Linked DNA regions of Homo sapiens. The protein of the gene in region 2 purifies or fractionates together with the protein of the main gene of each other region. This does not show direct contact. Each region holds a gene or a part of one and is shown on either strand. Other genes may lie near its edges.

What was found.
Region 1: the proteins of CABIN1 (region 2) and NASP purify together in Homo sapiens (affinity purification with mass spectrometry, with the first as the bait; one large-scale study listed by BioGRID). This does not show direct contact.

The regions. Positions count from the first base shown.
Region 1 is NC_000001.11:45,604,412-45,608,223, forward strand, and holds part of NASP (nuclear autoantigenic sperm protein), read left to right. Parts: intron 1-524; coding exon 525-605; intron 606-2,070; coding exon 2,071-2,180; intron 2,181-2,909; coding exon 2,910-3,812. UniProt on the Homo sapiens protein: Component of the histone chaperone network. Binds and stabilizes histone H3-H4 not bound to chromatin to maintain a soluble reservoir and modulate degradation by chaperone-mediated autophagy.
Region 2 is NC_000022.11:24,059,556-24,063,367, reverse strand, and holds part of CABIN1 (calcineurin-binding protein cabin-1), read right to left. Parts: intron 3,445-3,812; coding exon 3,227-3,444; intron 1,422-3,226; coding exon 1,343-1,421; intron 410-1,342; coding exon 222-409; intron 1-221. UniProt on the Homo sapiens protein: May be required for replication-independent chromatin assembly. May serve as a negative regulator of T-cell receptor (TCR) signaling via inhibition of calcineurin. Inhibition of activated calcineurin is dependent on both PKC and calcium signals.

The DNA.
Region 1 (3,812 bases), on a different chromosome or scaffold from region 2:
CTTTGAACAAACAGTTATTAACATTCCCATTTTACAGATGAGAAAACTAAGGCACTGTGAGAATAATTTGTCTAAGGTCTCACAGCTAGTTATGGGTTAAAGGTAGGATTTGAATCCAGTTAGAAGAACTCCAGATATTCTGCGCTTTACATCATGCCTTTCCATGGGCCTTAATCATCCTCTAGGTCCCAGCCAAAGGTCCTTTAACTATTCTGATCCATACTGACATCCATCTTTTAGCAGGAGGAATACCTATTAATACCTTAGGGCTGTTTGGCCCTACATTATGTATTACTAATTGTAGCACATTTATGTCACTTAGGATGTATATATATTATATATTGATAAAGAGCATACAAAATTTTCATGCATTGTTTAATGTCACTTTGACCTTGAAAGCAAGAGGGGTATTGGTTTTCTAGGAGTATGTTACTGGAGAAATATCAATTTATAACTGAAGAACTAGAACTAAATGTTTTAGATTAGATGGTAATTCAGATTTTAGATGTTTATTCTCTTTGTAGAGGTAAGAAGTATGGAGAGACAGCTAATGAGTGTGGAGAAGCCTTCTTTTTCTATGGGAAATCACTTCTGGAGTTGGCAAGGTATGGATGTTGTATTTAAAAACTGAAGTTTCCTTGTTAAGATTGTTTACTAGCTTTGAGATTTCACAGGAGCTAAGCAAGATTGGTTTTACCTAGAGAGTTTTGAAGGAGCTTGAAGTAGTGATGGAAGTTGTGAATGGCACTTGATACAATTAGTAGTTATATTTAAGTTTTGACTTTTGGAGTCAGTAGAAGCAAAGTTCTTTCCAGTAGTGAATGATCCAAAGTTCAGTGTAGAGAATCTTTAAAAGCACTGTGAGCTAGCTCAAAACAAGGACTGAATAGAGGACAACTGGAAAGAATTAGCAAGTGAGACTGTCCAGTAAAAAAGACTTTTACTATTGAAAAGTTCTTGGCTATGTTCTATCAGAATTTATTAATCAGAATAAGTTCTGTTTAGGGTATACAAACTAGCAAATGATGTCATCTATTTAATCTCAGTTCTGGTAAGGTTTTTTTTTTTTGAGATGGAGTCTCAGTCTGTCACCCAGGCTGGAATGCAGTGGCGCGATCTCGGCTCACTGCATCCTTCATCTTCCGGGTTCAAGTGATTCTTCTGCCCCAGCCTCCTGAGTAGCTGGGACTACAGGCATGTGTCACCACACCCGGCTAATTTTTTATTTTTAGTAGAGACAGGGTTTCACCATGTTGGCCAGGCTGGTCTCGAACTCCTGACCTCAGGTGATCCACCCACCTCGGCCTCCCAAAGTGCTGGGATTACAGGCGTGAGTCACTGCGCCTGGCCCAGTTCTGATAAGTTTTTTTTTTTTTTTTTTTAAGACGGAGTTTCACTCCTGTCACCCAGGCTGGAGTGCAATGGTGCGATCTCTGCTCGCCGCAACCTCTGCCTCCCCGGTTTGAGCGATTCTCCTGCCTTAGCTTCCTGAGTAGCTGGGATTACAAGTATGCGCCACCATGTCCAGCTAATTTTGTATTTTTAGTAGAGATGGGGTTTCTCCATGTTGGTCAGGCTGGTGTTGAACTCCTGACCTCAGGTGATCTGCCTGCCTCCACCTCCCAAAGTGATGGGATTATAGGCGTGAGCCACCGTGCCTGGTCTCTGGTAAGTTTTTAATCTCGTAATCATACAGAACTTTCTCATGATTTGCCGTGAAAATCTTGCTAGAGTATTTTTGGCTATTTAGAGAAATCGGGTGGATACAAAGTTTGGGAAATAGTATGGTCCTATTACAAATGGAATGCATATAGGTCTTGTTCTTTTGACAAGAGACATGCTTTTCAGGCGGCTGGATGGAGGAATATGCTTATTTCCTTCAGTGCTCTTGCAGTCTTAATTTATATTACTAAAGTTTTGATCATTGCTTCCTTGAATATACATAGTTTTGTATTGCCTGCGCTTGGCTTACACTTCTTGCTTTTATAATATAGGACTGTATTTTCTGTCTTAGAAAAAATTGCTAGGTTCTAGCCATCAAACCTTTGGTGCTTTCTTTTGTTCTCCTAGAATGGAGAATGGTGTGTTGGGAAACGCCTTGGAAGGTGTGCATGTGGAAGAGGAAGAAGGAGAAAAAACAGAAGATGAATCTCTGGTAGAAAATAATGATAACATAGATGGTATGTGGAGTTGCATGTGACATTCAAGAGATGCGACGTTGTATATTTCTTGTATACAGTGGTGGAAACGGGGCTCTACCTGTCCTGGATGGTCTCTCCTAAGATGCTTGGGGTGATGATGCCTGCATCTGGTGGAGATTGCAGTGGGGATAGCTGTTTACTGAAGCTGACAGCAGATTTTTGAAAGAGAATAACTTATTTTCTCAAGTAAATCCAGTTATTTCGATTGGGGTTTTTTAAATCAAAAAGATAAAAGCAAGATTAAATTGGTGTTTTAAATACTATTACAACCTTAAGTGTTTTTCTGATGCAAATTTTTTTAAACAGCCTGTGCAGTTCAGTTATTTTAATAGCAGTACTTTTAGAGCCCTTGTACATTTTTTATGTGTGCGAAAATTATATAATTTCTAAGCTGAATTTGGCTGCTATAGTTTTACATATCAGATGGGGGAGAATGAAAAGCTTGGCATCTCTTACCTAACTGGTAATCAGAATGCTCAAGTAAAACAATACCTAGTGTAACAAGCTTGGGTTTCTTTTGCAGTAAGTTGCTCTGCTAGCCGGGATGCTCCCTTTCCTTTTCTCTAGGGGGCAGATAATTTTTAGGCCATCTGCTGAAACTTGGTAGGCTTTTTGAGGGTTTAAAGGGAATGTATTTTTAGTTTCCATTTATGCCTTTATCATTAAACTCGAAGACATGTTTATGCTTCATGTTCTTTAACCATGTAGAGGAAGCAAGGGAAGAGTTGAGAGAACAGGTTTATGACGCCATGGGAGAAAAAGAAGAAGCCAAAAAAACAGAAGACAAGTCTTTGGCAAAGCCTGAAACTGATAAAGAACAGGACAGTGAAATGGAGAAGGGTGGAAGAGAAGATATGGATATAAGTAAATCTGCAGAGGAGCCACAGGAAAAAGTTGACTTGACTCTAGATTGGTTAACTGAAACCTCTGAAGAGGCAAAAGGAGGAGCAGCACCAGAAGGACCGAATGAAGCTGAGGTCACTTCTGGGAAGCCAGAACAGGAAGTACCAGATGCTGAGGAAGAAAAATCAGTTTCTGGAACTGATGTCCAAGAAGAGTGCAGAGAAAAAGGAGGTCAGGAGAAGCAGGGAGAGGTAATTGTGAGCATAGAGGAGAAGCCAAAAGAAGTTTCAGAAGAGCAGCCTGTGGTGACTCTAGAAAAGCAGGGCACTGCAGTGGAGGTAGAAGCAGAGTCTTTAGACCCGACAGTCAAGCCAGTGGATGTGGGTGGGGACGAGCCAGAGGAGAAGGTAGTTACCTCTGAAAACGAGGCAGGAAAGGCGGTTCTTGAACAACTGGTAGGTCAAGAAGTACCACCTGCTGAAGAGTCACCAGAGGTGACAACAGAGGCTGCAGAGGCCTCAGCTGTAGAGGCTGGATCAGAAGTCTCTGAAAAGCCTGGGCAGGAGGCTCCAGTTCTCCCTAAGGATGGTGCAGTCAATGGACCGTCAGTTGTAGGAGATCAGACTCCTATTGAACCACAGACTTCTATAGAAAGACTGACAGAAACAAAAGATGGCTCAGGACTAGAGGAGAAGGTCAGGGCAAAGCTGGTTCCTAGTCAGGAGGAGACTAAGCTGTCTGTAGAAGAGTCTGAGGCAGCTGGAGATG
Region 2 (3,812 bases):
GATTGGTATCATGCTTGGAAGTCTGAGATGCTGAGAATTCCCCACTGTGTCACACTTTCTCATGCCAAGCCCAGTGCCCGGGCAGGTGCTATGCATGTACACATGCATGCACACACACACACACACACACATACACACACACACCCTCAACATGGTCAATTTTCTGCCCACCCTGCTGGGTGTCAGGGCATGCTCCCCAAGCAGCTGACCATGGAACTAACCTGCAGCGCCAGGAAGCGAGCCTTCAGCCAGTAAACACGGACCACAAACTCCAGCCAACCATCCTCGAACAGGTCGCGCTGGGACGAGGCAAATGACAGCTGTAGGAGGTCACCCAGGCAGTGGGTCCCTGGGAAGTCAGGTCCAAATCTGCCATTCACCATACCAGCAGGGCAGTTCCGAGGAGACACTAAAAACCATCAGGCCAACGAGTCAACTTCATGTGTAGCATTCTAATGCCCTTCTGCTTCTCAGAAGTTGCACTTGGCCCTAACCACACCCACCCTATCTCCAGGGGCACCCTAAGCCCCTCAGAGCCCTACAGCTCCCTGAGTGGCAGGCATCAGAGAGGTTGGACCAGTTAAGACAAAGATATGCAGAGACCCTGCCCCCTGCCGAGAGTCAGGGGCAAGGGCAAGGGGAAGCAATTTTACAGACAGCATTGAGTATATCTACATTCCACCAGGTGGTAGTTTAAAAGTCAGAATGAAGCTGGGCCCAGTGGCTCATGCCTGTAATCCCAGCACTTTGGGAGGCTGAGGTGGGCGGATTACTAGAGGTCAGGAATTCAAGACCAGCCTGGCTAACATGGTGAAACCCCATCTCTGCCAAAAAATACAAAAATTAGCCAGGCATGGTGGCACACGCCTGTAGTCCCAGCTCCTCGGGAGGCTGATATGGGAGAATCACTTGAGCCTGGGAGGCAGAGGTTGCAGTGAGCCAAGATCATGCCACTGCACTCCAGCCTGGGTGACAGAGCAAGACGCTGTCTTACCAAAAAAAAAAAAAAAAAAAAAAAAAATCCGTATCACCAGAAAAATTACTGAAGCTACATAATACATAAAGCACTGCATTGAACAGTCACACCAAAACTGAGATCCCACTTCCTTCAATCTTGTGTAACAGCAAAGCAGGGAGGTGGCTCCCTCTGGGGGCTCAGCTACTGCTAACCACTTCTTGAGTATCCAGGAGATTTCCCTGGGACCCTGACAAGCCAACCCAAAAAATGTGCCTACTGTAGATATAAGGCTAAATTCCATGACTCAGTCTCCCGCCTCAGCTTTCTCCCAGCTGCTGGGGGTTCAGATATTAGCCTGGCCACAGAACACATAATGCCTCCTACCTGCAGAGCTTCTGCCTTTGGTCAGCAGCCACTGGTCCAGCTGGAGTTCCATGCAGGAGAGAGACATCAGCATCATGTCCTGCAGGACAGACACAGGAAGGTCAAGAACAGTATCACAAAGCCTCTTCACAGTGTGGGGGGTAGGGGGCTGTGGAAGGAAACAAAACTATACTTTTTGATAAAAATATAATTCTTTCTATCCACTTGCCATTTCATAAGTGATAATCAGTGGCTACTCGCCAGAACATAAAAAGAGCCACATGGATGTATGTTGGGACAAGACTTGGGAGAGGCCAGGAGACCGGTCTTCAGAGTTCTTGTCCTGTTGAAGAGGCAGCCCTGTCACCTGCCAAGTGCTGGGACGGACACTGCATCCAAATTATAGAACTCAACCCTTAAAAGTTCTGGGCAGCTGGTATACCATTCCCAGGGCACTTGAGGAAGCTGAGGCTCAGTGATGAGAAGGCACTTGCCCATTGGGCACAGCTGGAAGGTGATCATCAGCCTGCTTTGCCTGGGGATCAAAGCCCTGGTTCCTCCTGCTGTTTCACAACTGCCCCAGGGGAGCATGGCCTGGTGGGCAGAAGCTGCCAGGAGGTTGCCCTGAGGTAACTCAGTGGAGGGTGCCCACCAAGGGATGACTGACCTACAAGCTCTTCTACCTCCTGTGCTCTCAAGTCAGAAAGACCACCAGGCATCCCTGAATGTTCCTGGTGCTCCTGCTTCAGCATTCAGTGTCCCACCTCCAACAGGAGTAAGGGGCCAGAGCACCTTGTGTTCCCTTGAGCTCCAGGAGGCACCAAGTGGAGGAGGCTGGGGTGTGGAATGCAGCAGGAAGACAAGGCTCAGTGAGGCTCAGCCCCCTACTGCTGGTGGCCCCCAAAGCTTCTCTAAGCACGCTATTTAGCTTCTGCTGTTTTATCATCTGTTAAAAATAGTCATAGGCCAGGCATGGTGGCTCCCGCCTGTCATCCCAGTGCTTTGGGATGCCAAGGCATCAGGATCACTTGAGCCCAGGAGTTCCAGACCAGTCTGGGCAACATGGCAACATGGCAAGACCACATCCTAACATCGTAACAAAAGGAGACCCCCATCTCTACAAAACAAAACAAATTTTTTTTTTTTGAGACAAGAGTCTCGCCTTGTCGCCTAGGCTGGAGTGCGGTGGCGCCATCTCGGCTCACTGCAAGCTCCGCCTCCCGGGTTCACACCATTCTCCTGCCTCAGCCTCCTGAGTAGCTGGGACTATAACCGGGTGTGGTGGTGTACGGCTGTGGTTCCAGCTACTTTGAAGGCTGAGGTGGGAGGACTACCCGAGCCCAGGAGGTTGAAGCTGCAGTGAGCCGTGACTGCACCACTGCACTCCAGCCTAGGCAACAGAGCAAGACCCTGTCTCAAACAACAACAACAAAAGCCTCAGTCACAGTCCTTGCCAACTCAAACAAACCAAATGTTTCCCTTTCCTCCAGCTTCTCCTGGCAAGGCTTCCTGTGACTCAGTAAACAACCCGAGAAGCCCTCCCCATGACTCTCATTCCCTCACACATCCCATGTCTAGTTCAACCTATCAGCTCTGCAACCACAAACCAGCACCCCACTATTACCACTGGATCTCAGCCACTGCTCCCCTGGCATGGCAGCAGCCTCCTGATAGCCCCGTGAGCCCACTCTCACCCCTAAGTGTATCCTCCACTCAGCCATCAGGGAGCTTTCTAGGCACAAACTAGGTTCAGTGACTTCCTGCTTCGACACCCACAAAAAAACCAGGTTCCAGGCCCACAAGTAGATGCAGCCAAACACAACAGCAGCCCCACACCCATGCAAGATCCCTGTCCCCATGCCCTGGTCCCAGTTCAATACCAGCCCTTGAGAGGCTCCCCCTAACCTTGATGTGCTTGTTGCTGCAGTCCCTCAGCAGCGGGTTGGGCAGGCTGGTGCTGTGCCTCCTCCAGCTGTGGTAGACGCTGAGCACGACCTCCGCCAAGCCTGGAGGCCACCTTACCAAGAACTTGTGGCCCATGGCTTTCAGGTAGCGCATCATCAGCTCCAGGATGCCCCCGTTGGTTAGGTTCTCCAGCAGGAACTCATGCACGTCCTGCTTTTCTGCCCGGGGAGCAAGAACAACCTGACTTGAATAAAGAGTACCTTCCATGCCAGGGTCTCCTATTTACTTTGGGACAGTAAAGACTGTTCCCTCCCTCTACCATCTGATCCAGGTGGACATGATACCACGTTGTGGTGCTGAGATCAGGCTACTGGGTTCAATGCCTGGCTCCAACCCTCAGCAGCTATGATTGAGCCTCTCTGAATCTCCGTATCTAAGGTGGACATCAAAAGGGCAGACCTCCAAGTGCTGCCATGTGCACTAATCTCACTCAACAGTTATACACTGATACACACTCAACAGGTGTGCTTATATAGATTCAATTTGCAAAGCGAAGTCTCTGAATTTGGCCATAAGAAAGCATAGC